2 linked regions of the Homo sapiens genome follow. Changing the gene in region 1 together with any one later gene gives a genetic interaction. Each region holds a gene or a part of one and is shown on either strand. Other genes may lie near its edges.

Region 1 (8,502 bases):
AATGCATTTTTGTAACATTTGACAAACATCTCCCAATATGTAGACTCCCACTCTCCTGATGCTAATCAGTATCAGACAATGGAAGTAAATTTTCCTGCTTTTCTCAACTTTTCCTCAAATTCATGTTAGTGAAGTACTTTCATTTGGCCATCATTATTTATCAACCTTAAGAAACATGCCTATTGACGAAGTAAATATACTAGGAATTCAACGTATCTACGGGAATGTGGACAAAGACATATACCAAGACAAGGCACTAGAGTGAAAAGCCATTAAAATAAAATGCTCAGCAGCAAAGGATTTGTAATGGTTAACTTGCAATATATCCATATGGTGTAATATTACAGTCATTAGAAATGACATTTGCGTAAGGATCTGAGTGGAAACTGATACAGCCTGTCGGAGAGCTACTGAGTAGTATTTTATCACAGCTGCATACATACCCTTTCACCCAACAGTTCCACTCCTGGGAGTCTAGTCAACAAATGGACAAGTTGCACAACCAAGCTATGGTCAAATATGTGTGTTGTAGGATTTATGAAACTGGTACCAATTTAATATTCAAATGTGATTAAGTCATGGCAATCTATTTACTGGATACTTTGTGGTTACCAAAGAGCTATGTGCTGCCACAGGGAGTCCTTTCAATAGTGATTGAAAAAGGCAGAACACTACTAGACAGAACTACCTGTTTTATGCATGTATTGGCATACACTGAAAAAGCTTAGTCACTTAAAATGAGGTTGTACAGATTGTAGATTTTGTTTTTAAACGCCTGTATGGTTTAAAAAATGTTTTGGGAAATAGACATGAGCAGGGCAGAGAACTACAACCTACAGGCCAAACCCCACCCCACTGCCTGTTTGTACGGCCAACAAGTTTAAAATTTTTTTAATGTTTTAGGTTTTTTTTTTTTTAAAAAAAATACTATGCCCATTTGTTTACAAATCGTCTGTGGGTGCTTTCTCACTACAATGGCAGAATTCAGTAGTTGAGACAGACCTATGGTCCACAAAGGCCGAAATATTTACTGTTTTAGGAGAAAAAAACAACATGAATTGTAATAACTTGGACTTACTTGGTTGCTCAGTCCTGATGTGTCCTGTTAAAACCTAAGAGAAACAGCACCAAGTTCAATCTAGTGCAATCAGCCTATCACATCTAAGCTGCTTTTGCCAGATCTGATATCTACTCCCGACCTTAAGCCAGGAGACTTTGTAAACTTACTAGGTTATAATAAAACTTAAGAACTATCGATATTTACTAATCTACATCATGGAACTATTTCAAAAGCAGTCATATGGTAAGATGGATCAGGAGTCTTTAAAAATAAAACTGAGAAAGAAAAATCATGTGATCAATTCAGTAGTAGAGACAGAGGTTGGTATCAAGTCTATGTTCATACACTTACCAGTGCCACCCAGCAGGGCCATACAAGACACATGAAATGAGATCAGCTCAAGGGTGACAAGATGAAACTGGGAGAGGGCCGGGGAGACCCGAACTCTTAATATTGGATTCCACACAAGAGGAAAAATTTTAGTCCAGCTCCCAGCATGGCAGCTAATGGCAAGTTAGTACCATAAAGCCAACTCTTGGAATATACCTGACTTCCACGATAAAATGGAGATGAGTGCAGGGGTGAGTGTATAGTTAAGAAAACAAACAATATATTACTAGTCCAGGTGGTAGATGACAGATTTTTATTATTTACACTTCTCTCAAATTATTACATTCAGCATGTTTTGCTTTTTATGTTATTTAAAGTATAAACCCTCATATAATTCCCTAAGATGGGTGGCATGCCAAGTAGCTAAATGAAATATCATCCCAGCCCAAAAGTACTTATTCGAATGAAATATTACATTTTTCTTAAATAAAGCAATAAATTAGGTACCCTATTATCATGGTATTTTCTTTTTTGGCCAGCTTTTCTAGATAAGGTTGTATTGCTACTGCAACTAACAAAAAAGATGTGGCAGGGCTGGGCACGGTGGCTCACGCCTGTAATCCCAGCACTTTGGGAGGCCGAGGCGGGCAGATCACGAGGTCAGGAGATGGAGACCATCCTGGCCCAACATGGTGAAACCCCGTCTCTACTAAAAATACAAAAAATTAGCCAGGTGTGGTGGCAGGTGTCTGTAGTCCCAGCTCCTCAGGAGGCTGAGGCAGGAGAATCGCTTGAACGCGGGAGGCAGAACCTGCAGTGAGCCAAGATCATGCCACAGCACTCCAGCCTAAACTACAGAGCTAGAAAGTGGCTAGAGCAGCCAAAAAAAAAAAAAAAAAAAAAAAAAAAAAAGGTTCCTGAACCATTCAACAGAAAAATGAGGCCTATTCCTATCATTTCCTCGATCCAATTTAGTTCCACTTAGGTCACTGTGTTTATAATGTCTTTTAGGACAGATTTCCTTCCCCATTCTCCATCAAACAACCATAGCACCTGTGACTTTTATCTGTTGGTTTGTATTTAATCTTATTTTTAAGTGCTTCTTTGAAATTGTTTTACAAGTACATTCTTGGTCTAGAGTAAGGTTCTATATAGTTGGCCCTCCATATCCATGGGTTCCACTTCCGTGGATTCAAACAACCAGACAAAATATTCCAAAAAACATTGTGTCTGTAGTCAACATGTATATTTTTGTCATTATTCCTTAAACAATAGTGTAACTATTTACATAGCACTTACATTATAATAGGTATTATAAGTAATCTAAATATTAACATAAGCGGGAGGATTTGTGTAGATTGTATGCATATACAACATCATTTTATTCCAGAGACTTGAGCATCTGCGAATTTGGATATCCAAAGGAAGTCCTAGAACCAGTTCCCGACAAATACCAAGAGATGACTTTACTTTAGACCTAAGATCTTGCTAGACAGCCTTTGAGAGGATGAAGGATAACTAGAGCAGAAGCAAATCGCAGCGAAGTAGACTACAACAATCAAGTCAAAAAACATAAAGCTCCTATCAACACCTCAAGATTTTAGAAAAGCCTCTTAACGGGCAATTTTCTTTTAAATAAAGACTGGGTCCCACTATGTTAGCCAGGCTGGTCACAAACTCCTGGACTCAAGTGATCCTCCTGCCTTGGCCTCCTAAAGTGCTGGGATTACAGGCATGAGCCACTGTGCCCGGCCTGGGCAGTCGATTTTCAGGAAGCCACTTAATGTTCAGATTCTTTTCTTCTCTCCCAGGACTTTGCAGATGCTGCTGTTCCCTCTGCCTGGAGATGTTCATCTGGCCTGAATCCAAAAGTCTGTCCAAGTTACTTCTCTTTTCCATGACAGAGTTACAACTATTTGTCTGTCCCCCTTCCCCATTAGAGTATATGGTCCCCAAAGGAAAGCCCCATGCCATTCACTCACCACCTAATCATCCCCAACAACTAGTGGGCAAACATGAAACACTTTTGTTGAATAATGTGTTTCCTTTAGCCCAGGGATTACAAAGTCAAAGGCTTACAAGGGGGAAGGACTAGCAGGTGTGCTCGGAGGGGACTCTAGCCAACTGGAGAGTAACTGGTGAGAAGACAATGACATGCTCTTAGGGTGTCTGCTACTCAGATCCTCTCAGTTAAGTCCCGTGCACAAAGGTGGGTCAGGTCTACTGTTGCCAGATCTTCAGATCATTCAAAAGTTACCCGAATTCTGGATTTTCATGCAAATCTCCCAATTTTTAAAAATGTTGGCATCAAATTCAGAATGTTTTAACCAGCCACACTGTGTGGGCCAGGGAAAACAGGCCCAAAGGCCAGGTGAAGCTGCAGTTTTCAACTGCTGCCTTGGCCTCTCCCAGAGCCCCTTAAGTCCTAAGAAGGCTCAGTCAACACACTGGCACTCGTTTCATCCCACTGGTTGAGAAAGCAAGTCTTAGCAAAGTAATGGGGGAGTCTTACCAAAACTGCAAAGGAAAAAAATATGATACCATGAAATTAGAAATTCACTGCATTTGAAATGAAAATGACTTATTTCTGTACTTCTATAACTCACAAATTTAGCAGACATCATTTAGACATTTTTGTAGTGCAACAGATTTAAATCTGGAATTTCATGGTTTGTAAATCACTATGTGATACTAGCTATAACCATGAGCAATATTACGGGCAGTAAATGTTGATTTCTATTTCGTTTCTTGAAGTTTTGTGTGGTTCATTTTTAAAGTGAGATTCAATTTCCTTAGCTATAGTCAAATGTACCCTTTAAACAGCCCAAGAATTGTTATAAATGACAGCTGCTATCAGTTTTCAAATTTTACAATATTAGGGTTGTTAACTATTTCATTCTGAATTAAGCTAACATTTGTTACCAAGCAATGCATTTATTTGGAAGGATACCAGTTACCAGTCATCAAAAGCTTTTGTATGTTGAAAATGTAATTTTAATAGTTAATTCTTCATCTTACATAGGAGCACAATAAAATACACCACAATCTGAAGAAACTCCAGAATTACGAGAATAAGAGTGAAGAAAATTCAAATGGGCTACAATATCCATTACCTTAAACTGCAAGAGACAAGGTTGCAACCCGAAGGTTAACATTTATGTATTTATGACTGGCTACATTTATGACTTAAAAATAACAAGAATCAGGAATTAGATATGGAGAGAGGTGGGAAAGAACAGTTTTGTGAGGGGAGGAATTCGTCAATAAAGAAGAAAAATTACTGAATTCCAAATTAAAGAATAAAACGAGCTCCCACAGCAAATACTGGAGGGATGAAAGCAAGAATCATTAACTGAGGACTTGATACTCTCAAAGGGATAAACCTTTCTGATGACACACAAGCTAGATAGTTGAGATCTGCTCATCAGGTTTATAAGGAAGACTCACAAATGCCTCAGCAAATCCCAAATGATCAGATCAGTGTTTCTTAACACACATGAAAGGTTACAGATGAAATTTTCAGATAAGAACCAAGAAAAATGTCATAACCCAAATTTTAGGCAAAAATGTGGCACAACTGTGAAAGTCCTACATGTCAGTCACAACTGCTATCTTTGCTGTGACTTTCCTGTACAGTAATTTTTAAACATTGTGGCAAGACACCAATGATCATCTAATCAGACAACACAAACACATTTATTTCAAATTCCTAGAAGGTTAAAAAAAGGTCAGATACTGATGCTTTATGCATGCTCAGGGCCAGTTTATAAATACTCCATTCAGTACTATCTTAACACAAATCTGCATCAGTGAAAAGAAACTGGCAAAATCCACCTCTTGCCATTCAATTTGTCAGATGGTGAAGACCAAGAAAGAATGTTCCATCAGTTTCAATTTTAAAATACGATTGTCAAATTGGGAAAATGAAATAAACACAGTAAAATAAACTGTACAAAGGCAAAGTAGAATAACAAAAAATATTTTACTAAAACATAAGATTTACAGAAGTTTCCAGACAAGCCATACAAAATGGTCACAAGCTTTTTTTGAAGGGGGGAATCTACACTTGACAGCAATGTTATTAGTGAGGGCTGTGATGTTTGTTTAATGTTCCCATTTTGGTTCCAACAATCAAGCTTGTCCATCTACAGCGTCTAAATAAAGTTAGACTTGGCTAGAGCATATTCTAAAGACCTGGTTAGCTGCTTTTAACCAATGCAATTAGATCACCAAAAAAGGGGGAAAGGAGCCCATAAAATTAAACTACCTCCCCCCTCAAAAATAAAATAAAATAAAATAAAATAAAAACACCCACACCCCTGCAGCTAACCTGACAACTACCTTCATTCACAGTGCTTTATACTTAAACCAGGATGGGGGAAATGAATAAAAGCAGGGAGGGGCCACTGCTTTTAAACGTTTCACAACAATCCAGATGATACTTCTAGCCTCTGCTCATGCTTTATGACAGTGAATCAGGACAAGACATAGATTTGCTAATGTGCATTTAATCACCAAAGGACTGAAGATGTCTGGGCTTTTTTATTCTGTAATGTTTCTAAGACTGTGTCCATTAAATGCAAACAAAGAGGAGGAAGTCTTGGCAGAACAGGAGAAGTGATGCACACTTGATGATCGTATCAATTTAAATATTATTCATGGCATATAGCCTAGTCCATGCTCTAGCTGTAGACAGAAACAAACATACGATTATTATTTTACTTAGTTCAATATGTTACTTTCCAAACTATAAATGGCAAACAACCACTATTAATTATGGAAATGTCATGCTGTAATCTGTTAAATTCACGCCTTTTTCTATAAATTGGATCAGGGCTGAAAGATTTTGTAAATGTCCAATTACCAAAACACTACAATAAAATTAAGAAGTTCTAGAAAATTCAAGAGGATGAATCAAGTTGTCCATTTCTAGATACACAATTCTCCCCACTAATTTTCTTAAAATCTGTAGCAGAAGCTTCTTGACTCCAAATTCCGTAGCCATAAACAGCTGAATACTTTAATCAAATGGGTTACAAAAACAGTTCAAGTTTTCCAGTATTCTTTACATATAACTAGATAAATGGTATGCACTCAGTATTTGTTAAACCAGGTGTAGTTACAAGAGACTCCAAGATCTTTCAATTACAGGTTGTCTTTATATTTGGGGGGTCCCATAGCAAGCCATTTTGTTAAGACGTATTTACATACTATAAGCAGGATCTCACTTATTATACTTTTTTCTATTTCTTTTCCTTGCCAAGAGCTTTAGAAAAGTTTAAGTGGTAATACAAATTTGTAAAAGTGGAAGTGGTGTGAAGGAGAATGAATATTAGATACCTGTTTCTATGGCTTGGGCTTCGTTGGTCTTCCACTGCTCCGCTACATCATTTGCTAATGGATCATCTGGATTGGGAGCACTTAACAAGGCCTGGATCGATAGCAGAACTGTGCGGATCTGCAGTGCTGGGGACCACTTATCTATGAAGGCAACAGGCCCAGTATGATAAAGCATGAAAAAAACAGGCCCAGAACTGCTTCACTTCCCTCCCACAGACCTCTCTGATCTTTGTATAATGTTTACATTCTAAACATGGAATGCTTAAGAGAAAAAGGAGAAAGCTTAATAATAGCATATGCTGATAAAGATAACACTTACCTTTCAAAATATCTAAACATATTCTTCCCAACTTGTCTACATTAGGATGATAAATTTTGGTCATGAAACGTACTTTAGGGGCTGCCATTGGGTATTCTTCTGGAAGGAATAGTTCAAGTTTAAAAGTCCCTCCCTCAAAGGGGGAATCCTGAGGGCCAGCAATGACCACATGAAAATAACGGGCGTTGCTCTCATCTGGTTCGGCTTTGATGCCAGGAACTGGTTCTGCCAGCAAACGCTGGGTTTCCTATGACAGAAAAACAAACACATTTGTGAAACAAATGTCATTTTGCTAGACACCAAAAGTAAAATTAGAAAGTTCATCTCTTAGAACTACGCATAATAGAACAGCTCCAATCTCCCAACAGATTTAGCTTATAAAATGCAAAATTCAAAAAAATACCATTTAAATAATTACAACCAGCTGAATGAAACTGCAAGCGAATACTAATGATGTTATCATACATTTTGGCTACAAATGTCTACAAATATGTTAATAAAATTAGCTTAATAAAACTGATTTTTTACTCAAGTAAAATAAAGTAACATTAGGATTACATAAGTAAGGCAACTTGCTCTAAACTCAACCAAAACCAAGCTATTTAAAAAGTAAAATTAGCTTTTTTGGTGGTTTTTTTTGGCTTGTTTGTTTGTTTTTGAGACAAGATCTCACTTTGTCACTCACGCTGGAGTGCAGTGGCAAGATCTTGGCTCACTGCAGCCTCGACCTCCCTGGGCCCAGGTGATCCTCCCAACTCGGCCTCCTGAGTAGCTGGGATTACAGGTGTGCGCCACCACACCTAGCTAATTTTTGTATTTTTAGTAGAGACGGTATCACCCTGTTGGCCAGGCTGGTCTTGAACTCCTGGCCTCAAGTGATTTGCTCGCCTTGGCTTCCCAAAGTGCTGAGATTACAGGTATGGGCCAACACACTCGGCCAAAAATTAGTTTTTAAACCCACTGAAAACCTCCCCTCTGAAAAATGTAACGGACTAAAGAAAGGAGATAAGAAGAGGCCCAGGTACCTGAACAGGACTAAAGAAATATATTTAACAATGCTGATTACTCTAAAATTGACAATTAACTTCAGAGGAACCCTTAATACTCCCAACAATCATACCATTAGTTCTCTTTTTCATCATTCTCCCTCTCCCCTAAATAATTGTATTATTATTATTTCTCTTCTCTCTTCAAACCTCCAGCATCTCCATCCCCATCCTCACTTGTGGCTGATGTCCTGCTTCCTATTTCATGACAAGTTAGATACTTCCATCAGTTCCCACTGTAGCATTTGGACATTTCCCTGCATCTGCACCCATACACTCTGGTTTTTCTCCTGTATAGATGAAATGTCACGTACTCTTGGCTAGGGCCAATCGGTCTTGAGCACTAGATCTTACTGATCTCTGAAATGTTTGTTCTTCGGTACCATAAAGAAATAGCACTTGAACAT
Region 2 (10,135 bases), on another chromosome or scaffold:
TCTGAGCTTGCCTCCTTGTCTCTTCTTGGGATTGGTCTGGTGGGAGAGGAGTCACCTATAAGGCTAGGGCCAATTGGAATTCAAAGTTCTTCCTGAGAAGCCTGGAATCTCTGAGCGCCTGAACCAGAGGGCCAAATGGATGCTTCATACCCCTTATCCTCTTAGCTTCATATTGGGGCTAGGAGTGGACTCATCAGCCTCTCCCATGGCCACACCTTCCCCTCCTGCGCACCCGCTGCTGCCCACCTGCATTAAAAGTAGCCACTGAGGAGAAAAGCCTTCTTAGGGGGAGAAGCTGAGCCTGGTGAGGATGCCCCAGCACAGAGAATGGTGGCTATGTTTATGGCAGGGACTGGCCTAGGGCAGAATGGACCGATGTGGGTTCCCAGAGAAGTTTGTCCTAGAAACAATAGAAAAGGGTAGGCCCAGACCCTATCCACAGGTAAGCCTTAAATTCCAATGACAAAACACCGGTGCTACACAAATCTCATCCCCCTTAAGTAGATCAGCAGCAGGAACTGTGAAAGGCAGATGAGAAATGGGAAAGGGAAGAGATTGGGGAAGCAATGTAGGTCCCAGCACCCACCACCCCTGCAGAATGGGCCCCAGACAGGACTGCTATACATCTGCATTTATTATGAGCAGCAGGTGGGACACTTCCAGCAACAGTAAAAAAAAGTAATTTACAAAAGCAGGTTTCAGTGAAGCCATCTGGTTGTTACCTAAAAGAGGAGAGGGGTATCAAAATAAGACCAATGGCCCTTCTTTCCTCCTTCTCTCCCTGCACCCCTGTGCTCCTGGGGCAAGGGCTATTGAGCACACACCTCTGAGGATGAGCCACCAGAGCTGATTCCTAGTGGCCTGTTTGGTGGATTGTCTGCAGCAAGTTTTAAGCCCTGGATCTTGACCCCCTTTCAGCCAGCTGACTTCCCAGCAGCCTCTCCAAGTCACTGGGGTCTGACTTCTAAGAATGTAAATGTACAGCCATGGGATGCCTGCGTCCACACTTCTAGGTGGTACATCCCAAAGGCAGATCGAGGCCTTGGGCCATGTGAGCTCAGAACTGAGAGTCACATTTGGCTCAAATCCGTATGAGGGGCAGGGAAAGAGGCACAAATGTCTAGTGTCCCTACCCATTCCACTGAGTCTGTCTCCATCAACCAAGGGGTCATGCTGGTAAGAGCTTTAAGGACCCTGCTGACCTGACTCTGGGGAGGCTTCCCTGGGCTGTGCCTTGGAGGCTCACGCATCCATCCCATTGCAGCTCTTACCCTTGGGTGCTCACACGTAGATGCCAACCCAGAGCAGCAGGAAGAGGACTCCAAAGCCCATGAAGAGTGAGGCCACTAAGGAGATGAGGAGCTCTTTATAGATATCACGAGTGTACTTGGTAGAGGTGACCTCGTAACTGGGCACAGCAGTTAAGGCAAAGCGAAGGGGTGGACTGTGGAGTGCAGAGAGCCCAGCCCACGGCAATCTGAGGAGAAAAGCATTGGCTCAATGCCTTCTGGGAGGCCTATCTGGCTCAGAGCAGCCAGGCAGAGGGGCCTAAGAGATGCCTTGGACTCTGGTGCTCCACTGCCATGAAGAAAATGAGACCCAGAGGAGTTAGGTCACTTGCCCCAGGTCACACAGCTCATGAGGGCCGGAGCTGGGACTAGCCCTCAGACCTCCTGACACCTGAGTGCACCCTTCCTTATACCACCTTTCCAACTGTAGCACCCCTATTCCCCACCTCCACTCCAGCCAGGTCCCCTGCTCACTGTCCTGGAAATCCAAAGAACAAACTGAGCTCACCTGAACTTGGGAAATAAGGCTATAACCTGCCCCTGGGCATCACTAGCCCTCCTCTCCTCCTTACCTTCTCTCAGCCCCAATCCAATGTACAAAACCGGCGGGGTCCATGTACCTAGCGTGGTTTCTCCCTGAGCTTCCCACATCACTAATGCTGGTCCTCTGGCTGCTCAGTGAAAGGATACACGAAGAACCAGGCGGTGAAGAACATGCCAATGGCCAAAAGCACCACGGTCAGATGGGGGAAGACAGCTGGGTTCACTGGGCTGGTATATCTGCTCATGGCCTCGAGCTCCTAGAGGAGGGAAAGAGATCAGAGCTATCAAAGAATCCCACGATTTCAGCCTGGAGAGAACATGCGGTTATCAAGGAGCCTGGTGCTGCCGTGAAACAGAGGCTGATTTTAGCCCGGAAATGTAGCTGCAGATCAATGGCCCTTATTAGCATTTTCTGAGGCCAATAATCTGACCACTATGAAAACGTGACTAAAGGTACGAACTCTCTGCCTGAGAAAAACCACATACAAGAAAAAGTTTGCCTACAATTTCCGGAGCTTTGTGGACCAGTGTCTATAGACACCAAGCTGAGAACCCCCGCTATAAGTCACTGACTGGTGGTACCCAGATCTCAATATCTTTTTTTTTTGACGGAGTCTCATTTTTTGGACGGCGTCTCACTCTGTCGCCCGGGCTGGAGGGCAGTGGCACGATCTCGGCTCACTGCAACCTCTGCCTCCCGGGTTCTAGAGATTCTCATACCTCAGCCTCTCGAGTAGCTGGGACTATAGGATTACAGGTGCGCACCACCACATCTAATTTTTGTATTTTTAGTAGAGATGGGGTTTTGCCATGCTGGCCAGGATGGTCTTGAATTCCTGACCTCAGGTGATCTGCCTGCCTCGGCCTCCCAAAGTACTGAGATTACAGGTGTGAGTTGCCGCGCCCAGGCTCAATTTTTTTTTTTTTCCAGACAGTCTTGCTCTATCGCCCAGGCTGGAGTGCCTGGAGTGCAGTGGTGCCAACTCGGCTCACTGCAAGCTCCGCCTTCTGGGTTCAAGTGATTATCCTGCCTCAGCCTCCCGAGCAGCTGGGATTACAGGCGTGAACCACCATGCCCGGCTAATTTTTTGTATTTTTAGGAGAGACAGGGTTTCACCTTGCTGGCCAGGCTGGTCTTGAACTTCTGACCTCCTGATCCGCTCGCCTCAGCCTCCCAAAGTGCTGGGATTACAGGAGTGAACCACCGCGCCTGGCCCTCAATTTCTAATTCAGTATTTTCCTCACTACCTATGCTATTATGGAATCTTGTGAGCTATGGTCAAGACATTCAAGTTCTGGTTCTGAGTAATCTGAGTCTGAGTAAAGCGACTGTAATATCTATTTCACAGAACTGAAAAATAAGAAAGATGATGAATCAAAGCATCTAGTGCCTAGCAGGGAGTATTTTGCTCAACAGGTATTTGCTTCCTTCCTAAGGCTGTAGGGAAGATGATGAGATAATGTCTTTTATGAAAGAGGGCTGTAAACGTAAAGATCTGTACAAATGTTAACTTCATTGTCACCGGTCAGCCAATGCTTCTAAAATCCAGAACATAACAACTCTAGAGAAGTAAACTGCCCCCATTGTTCTGAGACACTGGAATTCAATTCAGTAAACAATCACGGCCCCCTTCCCCCAAAATGATAAAGACAATCACTGCCATTTATTGAGCTTCCAATTACGGGCCCTCTGTTTGGCACTGAGAATACAAAGATGAATAGACATCATCCCAGAGCTAGATGCGCGTCAGACGGTGGTCACTAGGAGGCGTGGCCGAAAACAAAGAAGTCCATGGAACGTGGCCAGAGATCTGTACAGAGGCTGTGGGCGCTCCTAGGAAAGTCTGGCCAAGTGCCTGAGAGTTGGAAGTGCTTCACCAATAAACATTTGCCCAGGGCATTGTAGGATGGGCACGGGTTCGGCAGAAGAACTTTCCAAATAAAGATAACACACCACCGATAACAGAGATATACAAACTGGAAGGTATTCAAAATTCGCCCCACGCCTCTCGCCCTTAGAAATCGCGAGCTGAGAAACCTAAGGAGTTCATGGCAAGGGGCTTCCCCCTTCCCCACCCTTCAGCCCAAGCCGGAGGTTCCAGGAGCGTCTAGCCCTCTGGATCTCCGGCGTCTGAGGAGATAAGCGCGGTGTGGGTCAGACCCCGAGGGGTCCTCGCATCTCCGTCTGGAACTCCCCTCAACGCTCTCACCATTTTGCCCCGCGAAGGCTAATCCGCCGCTCCGCCACCGGAAGAACACGTCGGCAGGAGCAGGCGCCTAGCACAACCGGAAAAGGAAGTGCCTCCGGCGCAAGTGGCATTGAGGGACTTGTAGTCCTGCGATTTCGGGTGTAGAGGGAGCAGGGGCCTGCGGGGACCTGGTGTGGGTGGAGTGGGGACAAGCGGTGGAGAAGGGTACGCCAGGGTCGCTGAGAGACTCTGTTCTCCCTGGAGGGACTGGTTGCCATGAGAGCAGCCGTCTGAGGGGACGCAGCCTGCACTACGCGCCCCAAGAGGCTGTGCGTGGCGAGCAGGTCACGTGACGGGAGCGCGGGCTTTGGAAGGCGGCTGAACGTCAGGCCACCCGCCGCTAAGCTGAGAAGGGAGAGCGAGCTTAGGACCGCCTGCCCGGGGCAACCCCGAACCAAGCTTTAGCCGCCGAGGCCGCGTGTCCCAAAGGCCAGGTGAGACCCCATGGGAAGCGCCTCCGGGAGCGACGGGGTCCGCTTGGCGCTGGGGGCCGTGGGGAGCCGGGGTCTGGAGTGCGCGGGATTCGCAGTCAAGAGGTCCCGCCACTTTTCCCCCTGTGAGCCTTGGGCCAGTCGCGTAAGCTCCGAGCCTCTCTTTCCTCCATTGTAGAAAAGCGGTAATAAGTTCCACCTTATGGGGTCGTGTTGTATTTTTCCTAAGACCTTGGACGAGAAACATTTCTGACACTTGAGTTGTTTAGGCCCCTTTCCTGCCTACCTGTCTGTGGGACGCCGTGAGGGGATCAAGGGCTACATGGTCTGGTCCTCAGTCCACACTCCAGCAGCGCGGCCGGCTTGAGGCAAGAGCCGAAGGGTTGAACAGGCCTGGAGAGGGGACATTAGAGGTTTCTGTCTGTTGTCTCAGTTAACCCTGGCAGCAGCCCTGAGAGACAGGCATGGTAATCGTTCTTCTTCTGTAGACGAGAAAATAAACCTCAGTGGCTTGGTAATGTCACACGGATGGTAAATGCCGCGCCTAGATTCAAGGCCAGAGCTTTTGCCGCTGCAGTTCACAGGGGAATTATTCATATTAATCAAATGAATAATTCATTGTCAATTAATTATTAATTGATTAATAATCCAGGGATGGACCTGGAAGGACGCGTGAGAGGATGGCGAGAGGAGGGCACAGCTAAGGAAAAGTGGGAAAAGGCGGGCCTTATTCCAGCTTTCTGTTGAGATCCCAGAATGTAGGGTTAGGTTGGGAACCAGAACATGAAAGATCGTGATGCCATGCTGAAGTGTTTGGACTGAATTAGAAGGAAGAATTGAACAGTCATTGATGCTCTAGAAAGAACCCTGTGAAGAAAGAGTGGGAACAATGAAAAGGCCTGATGGAGTCTTTCGTTTCTTCTTTCTCTTTTCTTTTGTCTTCTTTTCTTTTCTTGACAGGGTCTTGCTCTGTTGCCCAGGCTGGAGTGTGGTGGCACAATCATAGCTCACTGTAGCCTGGAACTCCTGGGCTCATGTGATCCTCCCACCACGGCCTCCCAAAGTGCTGGGATTACTGCCCAGAGCCTCTGTGCCTGGCCCCAGTAGAATATTTCTTGGAGTATTGGACACATACCAACAGTGGGCACAAGATGAGTTTTTTATTTTTTTGAGACGGAGTCTCACTCTCTTGCTAGGCTGGAGTGCAGCGGCACAATCTCGGCTCACTGCATTCTCTGCCTCCTGGGTTCAAGCGATTCTCCTGCCTCAGCCTCCCGAGTAGCTGGGATTACAGGTGCACACCACCACACCCAGCTAATTTTTTTTTTTTTTGTATTTTTAGTAGAGACAGGGTTTCACCGTGTTGGCCAGGATGGCAAGATGATTTTAAATTGCACCCCCTAAAAATCCTTTTTAATAGTTATACATTTAATACATATTAAAATATAACTAATAGAACACAAATATTATTGCTTATGAGTTTTCCAGTTTAGTTTTTTAAAAAAAATTCTAAGTGAATGAAAGTACGGGTTTTAGTTGGAAGTAGCAAAAATCGTGAGGGTGATTTGGGAAACACTGCTATCTGGGAAACACTGAACTCTGAAGTGCAATACTCTTTTGAGCCCAGTGACTACAGCATGCCAGACCCCTAAATCAGGACCTGGGGAGGAGCCATGGAGTTAACATTTCAGACTGAGTGGTGGCGAGAAAACGCAAAGGGAAAGACTTGAAACTCTAGCAACATTATAATAAAAGTAGAAACTCTTATGTGCTGAGGCGATGATGAAGAGAGTTTAGAGAAGCTTGTGAGAAAGCCACATCACCTCCATTCAGATATGTTTGCAATCCTTTTTCAAGGCTGCCTTATTAGTCAGGGTTCTCCAGAGACTCAAAACAAATCAGATCTGTTTGTTTAGCTGGTGTATTTGCCTGTCTTTCAGGTCTGCCATTATGGTCCCTGGACTCCTCAAGCCAGGCCAAGCATCCTGGCCTTCTGTGGTCCTTGATGGAGACCTATGTTGCAGGTTTTTTTTGTGTAATAAATAATGCTGCTACCTTAGAATATCAACAGTATCTTATTTCTCTAAGCACGTGGTTCAATTTCTGGTACTCGTTGAGCCTTACTATTGAGTAAATTCTCCTGCTAGACTGAGTTTTTTGAGAATGGGGACCTTGTTCATCTTTTTATCTTTAGCAGTGCTGACATGGTGTCCTTTTTGTTGTGTGGAATTTAGTTGAAGGCATGAAGTTGGTGAGATAACACCAGTTATAACCTTTCTCCTTTCCTCCGTCTCTGACTTGCCTTTCTTTTTTAGTCATCCCTCCTCTGTGTTGCCATGGGAATTCAAGGCCTGGCCAAACTAATTGCTGATGTGGCCCCCAGTGCCATCCGGGAGAATGACATCAAGAGCTACTTTGGCCGTAAGGTGGCCATTGATGCCTCTATGAGCATTTATCAGTTCCTGATTGCTGTTCGCCAGGGTGGGGATGTGCTGCAGAATGAGGAGGGTGAGACCACCAGCCACCTGATGGGCATGTTCTACCGCACCATTCGCATGATGGAGAACGGCATCAAGCCCGTGTATGTCTTTGATGGCAAGCCGCCACAGCTCAAGTCAGGCGAGCTGGCCAAACGCAGTGAGCGGCGGGCTGAGGCAGAGAAGCAGCTGCAGCAGGCTCAGGCTGCTGGGGCCGAGCAGGAGGTGGAAAAATTCACTAAGCGGCTGGTGAAGGTCACTAAGCAGCACAATGATGAGTGCAAACATCTGCTGAGCCTCATGGGCATCCCTTATCTTGATGCACCCAGTGAGGCAGAGGCCAGCTGTGCTGCCCTGGTGAAGGCTGGCAAAGTCTATGCTGCGGCTACCGAGGACATGGACTGCCTCACCTTCGGCAGCCCTGTGCTAATGCGACACCTGACTGCCAGTGAAGCCAAAAAGCTGCCAATCCAGGAATTCCACCTGAGCCGGATTCTGCAGGAGCTGGGCCTGAACCAGGAACAGTTTGTGGATCTGTGCATCCTGCTAGGCAGTGACTACTGTGAGAGTATCCGGGGTATTGGGCCCAAGCGGGCTGTGGACCTCATCCAGAAGCACAAGAGCATCGAGGAGATCGTGCGGCGACTTGACCCCAACAAGTACCCTGTGCCAGAAAATTGGCTCCACAAGGAGGCTCACCAGCTCTTCTTGGAACCTGAGGTGCTGGACCCAGAGTCTGTGGAGCTGAAGTGGAGCGAGCCAAATGAAGAAGAGCTGATCAAGTTCATGTGTGGTGAAAAGCAGTTCTCTGAGGAGCGAATCCGCAGTGGGGTCAAGAGGCTGAGTAAGAGCCGCCAAGGCAGCACCCAGGGCCGCCTGGATGATTTCTTCAAGGTGACCGGCTCACTCTCTTCAGCTAAGCGCAAGGAGCCAGAACCCAAGGGATCCACTAAGAAGAAGGCAAAGACTGGGGCAGCAGGGAAGTTTAAAAGGGGAAAATAAATGTGTTTCCCCATTATACCTCCTTCACCCCAGAATATTTGCCGTCTTGTACCCTTAAGAGCTACAGCTAGAGAAACCTTCACGGGGTGGAGAGAGGATTCTAAGGCTTTTCTAGCGTGACCCTTTTCAGTAGTGCTAGTCCCTTTTTTACTTGATCTTAATGGCAAGAAGGCCACAGAGGTACTTTTCCTTTTTTAGCTCAGGAAAATATGTCAGGCTCAAACCACTTCTCAGGCAGTTTAATGGACACTAAGTCCATTGTTACATGAAAGTGATAGATAGCAACAAGTTTTGGAGAAGAGAGAGGGAGATAAAAGGGGGAGACAAAAGATGTACAGAAATGATTTCCTGGCTGGCCAACTGGTGGCCAGTGGGAGGTGATGGTGGACCTAGACTGTGCTTTTCTGTCTTGTTCAGCCTTGACCCACCTTGAGAGAGAGCCACCAGGAAGGCGCATCTTAGCAGATGGGAGGAACTGCTGAGAGAAGATGGGCAGAAAGCTGGAGCCCCTGGAGTTGGCTGTGTCTGTGTTTGTGACTGATTACTGGCTGTGTCTTGGGTGGGCAGAAACTCGAACTTGCTATGTAATTTGTGTCTAGTTATTCAGAGGAGTAAGATGGTGATGTTCACCTGGCAATCAGCTGAGTTGAGACTTTGGAATAAGACACTGGTTTTCATGCGCTGTTTTTGTTTTAAAGTTATGAAGAAAAAAGTCAATAAAATTCTAAAAGTAACCAAAATGTCATGTTCTTTGAGAACATTTGAAAATATCCCAAGTGACCATGGCTCCAAATAGCTTTCCTTTTCACTCTTAACATGCTGTAATTGCACTTGATTAACAATGGGTGGTTTGAGAGTGGCCACAAGATGGCACCATGCTCCATAAAATGGCCATAGCAGCTAGATGGAACTTCAGCCATTAGGAGGAGGATGTTTTGTTTATTTTATTTTGCTGGGAGAGGAGTTTTAATACGTTGAATAGATTTCTAGTCTCTCACTCCATGAGATCAAAGGAGTGCCTTTAAGAAAGCCTCACAATTTAGATCAACTACCTCATAACATCCAAGCATTTACTTTGCCACTACTTGTAAACTGAAAGCTGCCATTCAGAAACCATTTTCTTGTTCCTTTTGTAACATCAAATCCAAGATACTGTTTCCCATAGAGATGGCATGTTTTTGAGCTTTGAAAGTTTTATAATCCTGATAAAGCTTGGCCCATTTGAATGTCTGACGTTTTAGCATTCCTGTCAGGGCCATTTGAAGTTAACAGGGACACTTATGTAACTGTCCGAAATTTAAGCTGGCAATGTCTTGACAGATTAAACAGGTAGGGAGCCTGAAGACCAGTAGTTTTCAAGTCTTTTAATGGAGAAACCTATTCTTCAAGTGTAATCTTATGTGAAACTTTAGGATGTACAGGTTCCTCTGGTTGAAGCTGGAATGGGATAAAGTTTACCCAGCAACGGCCTCATAACTAGGGTACTTTTTGAAAACTGGTGTTGACAAAAAGTTCTATCCCAAGGGCAGGTAACTTTTGAAACTGATTTTCCCAGATTATACCAAGCCACACAACTTATTTGAGCTCTATTTTCTGATTCAGGTAGATTGCTTCTAAATCTGCAGTAATGGTGATAGGAACTAAAGACGGTAAGATTTCTTTTTTTTTTTTTTTTTTGAGACAGAGTCTCTTGCTCTGTCACCCAGGCTGGAGTTCAGTAGTGCGATCTTGGCTCACTGCAGCCTCAGCCTCCTGGGCTCAAGTGATTCTCCCACCTCAGCCTCCCAAGCAGCTGGGATTACAGGCACAGGCCACCATGCCTGGATGATTTTTCAATTTTTTGTAAAGATGGGATCTCACTGTTGCCCAGGCTGGTCTTAAACTCCTGGGCTCAAGCAATCCTCCCGCCTTGGCCTCCTAAAGGCTAGGATTACGTGTGCCATTCTCTCCCAGTGCTGGGATTACAGGATGAGCCACCTTGCCTGGCGAAATGTTAAGATTTCTTAGGAGTTATTGCCTCAGTGCAGTAGCTCTTAATAATTAAGGGCTTATACCCTGTGGTGGTCAAGAATGTAGTGGTTTTCTTTTGTCTTTTGAAGGTAAGTTTGTCTCCTATAGAATTTTGTTAATCTGACTTTCTGTGT

What was found.
Region 2: changes in UBE2N (region 1) and FEN1 are lethal when combined (synthetic lethality), as found in Homo sapiens cells (one study listed by BioGRID).

Annotation. Positions count from the first base shown.
Region 1 is NC_000012.12:93,404,004-93,412,505, forward strand, and holds the end of UBE2N (ubiquitin-conjugating enzyme E2 N), read right to left. Parts: intron 7,297-8,502; coding exon 7,050-7,296; intron 6,872-7,049; coding exon 6,731-6,871; intron 6,077-6,730; coding exon 6,036-6,076; 3' UTR 1,681-6,035; downstream 1-1,680. UniProt on the Homo sapiens protein: The UBE2V1-UBE2N and UBE2V2-UBE2N heterodimers catalyze the synthesis of non-canonical 'Lys-63'-linked polyubiquitin chains. This type of polyubiquitination does not lead to protein degradation by the proteasome.
Region 2 is NC_000011.10:61,788,514-61,798,648, forward strand, and holds FEN1 (flap endonuclease 1), read left to right. Parts: upstream 1-4,397; 5' UTR 4,398-4,515; intron 4,516-6,827; 5' UTR 6,828-6,848; coding exon 6,849-7,991; 3' UTR 7,992-8,725; downstream 8,726-10,135. Other genes in the region: dolichyl-diphosphooligosaccharide--protein glycosyltransferase subunit TMEM258, read right to left, coding at 1,282-1,408, 1,980-2,089, 4,043-4,045. UniProt on the Homo sapiens protein: Structure-specific nuclease with 5'-flap endonuclease and 5'-3' exonuclease activities involved in DNA replication and repair.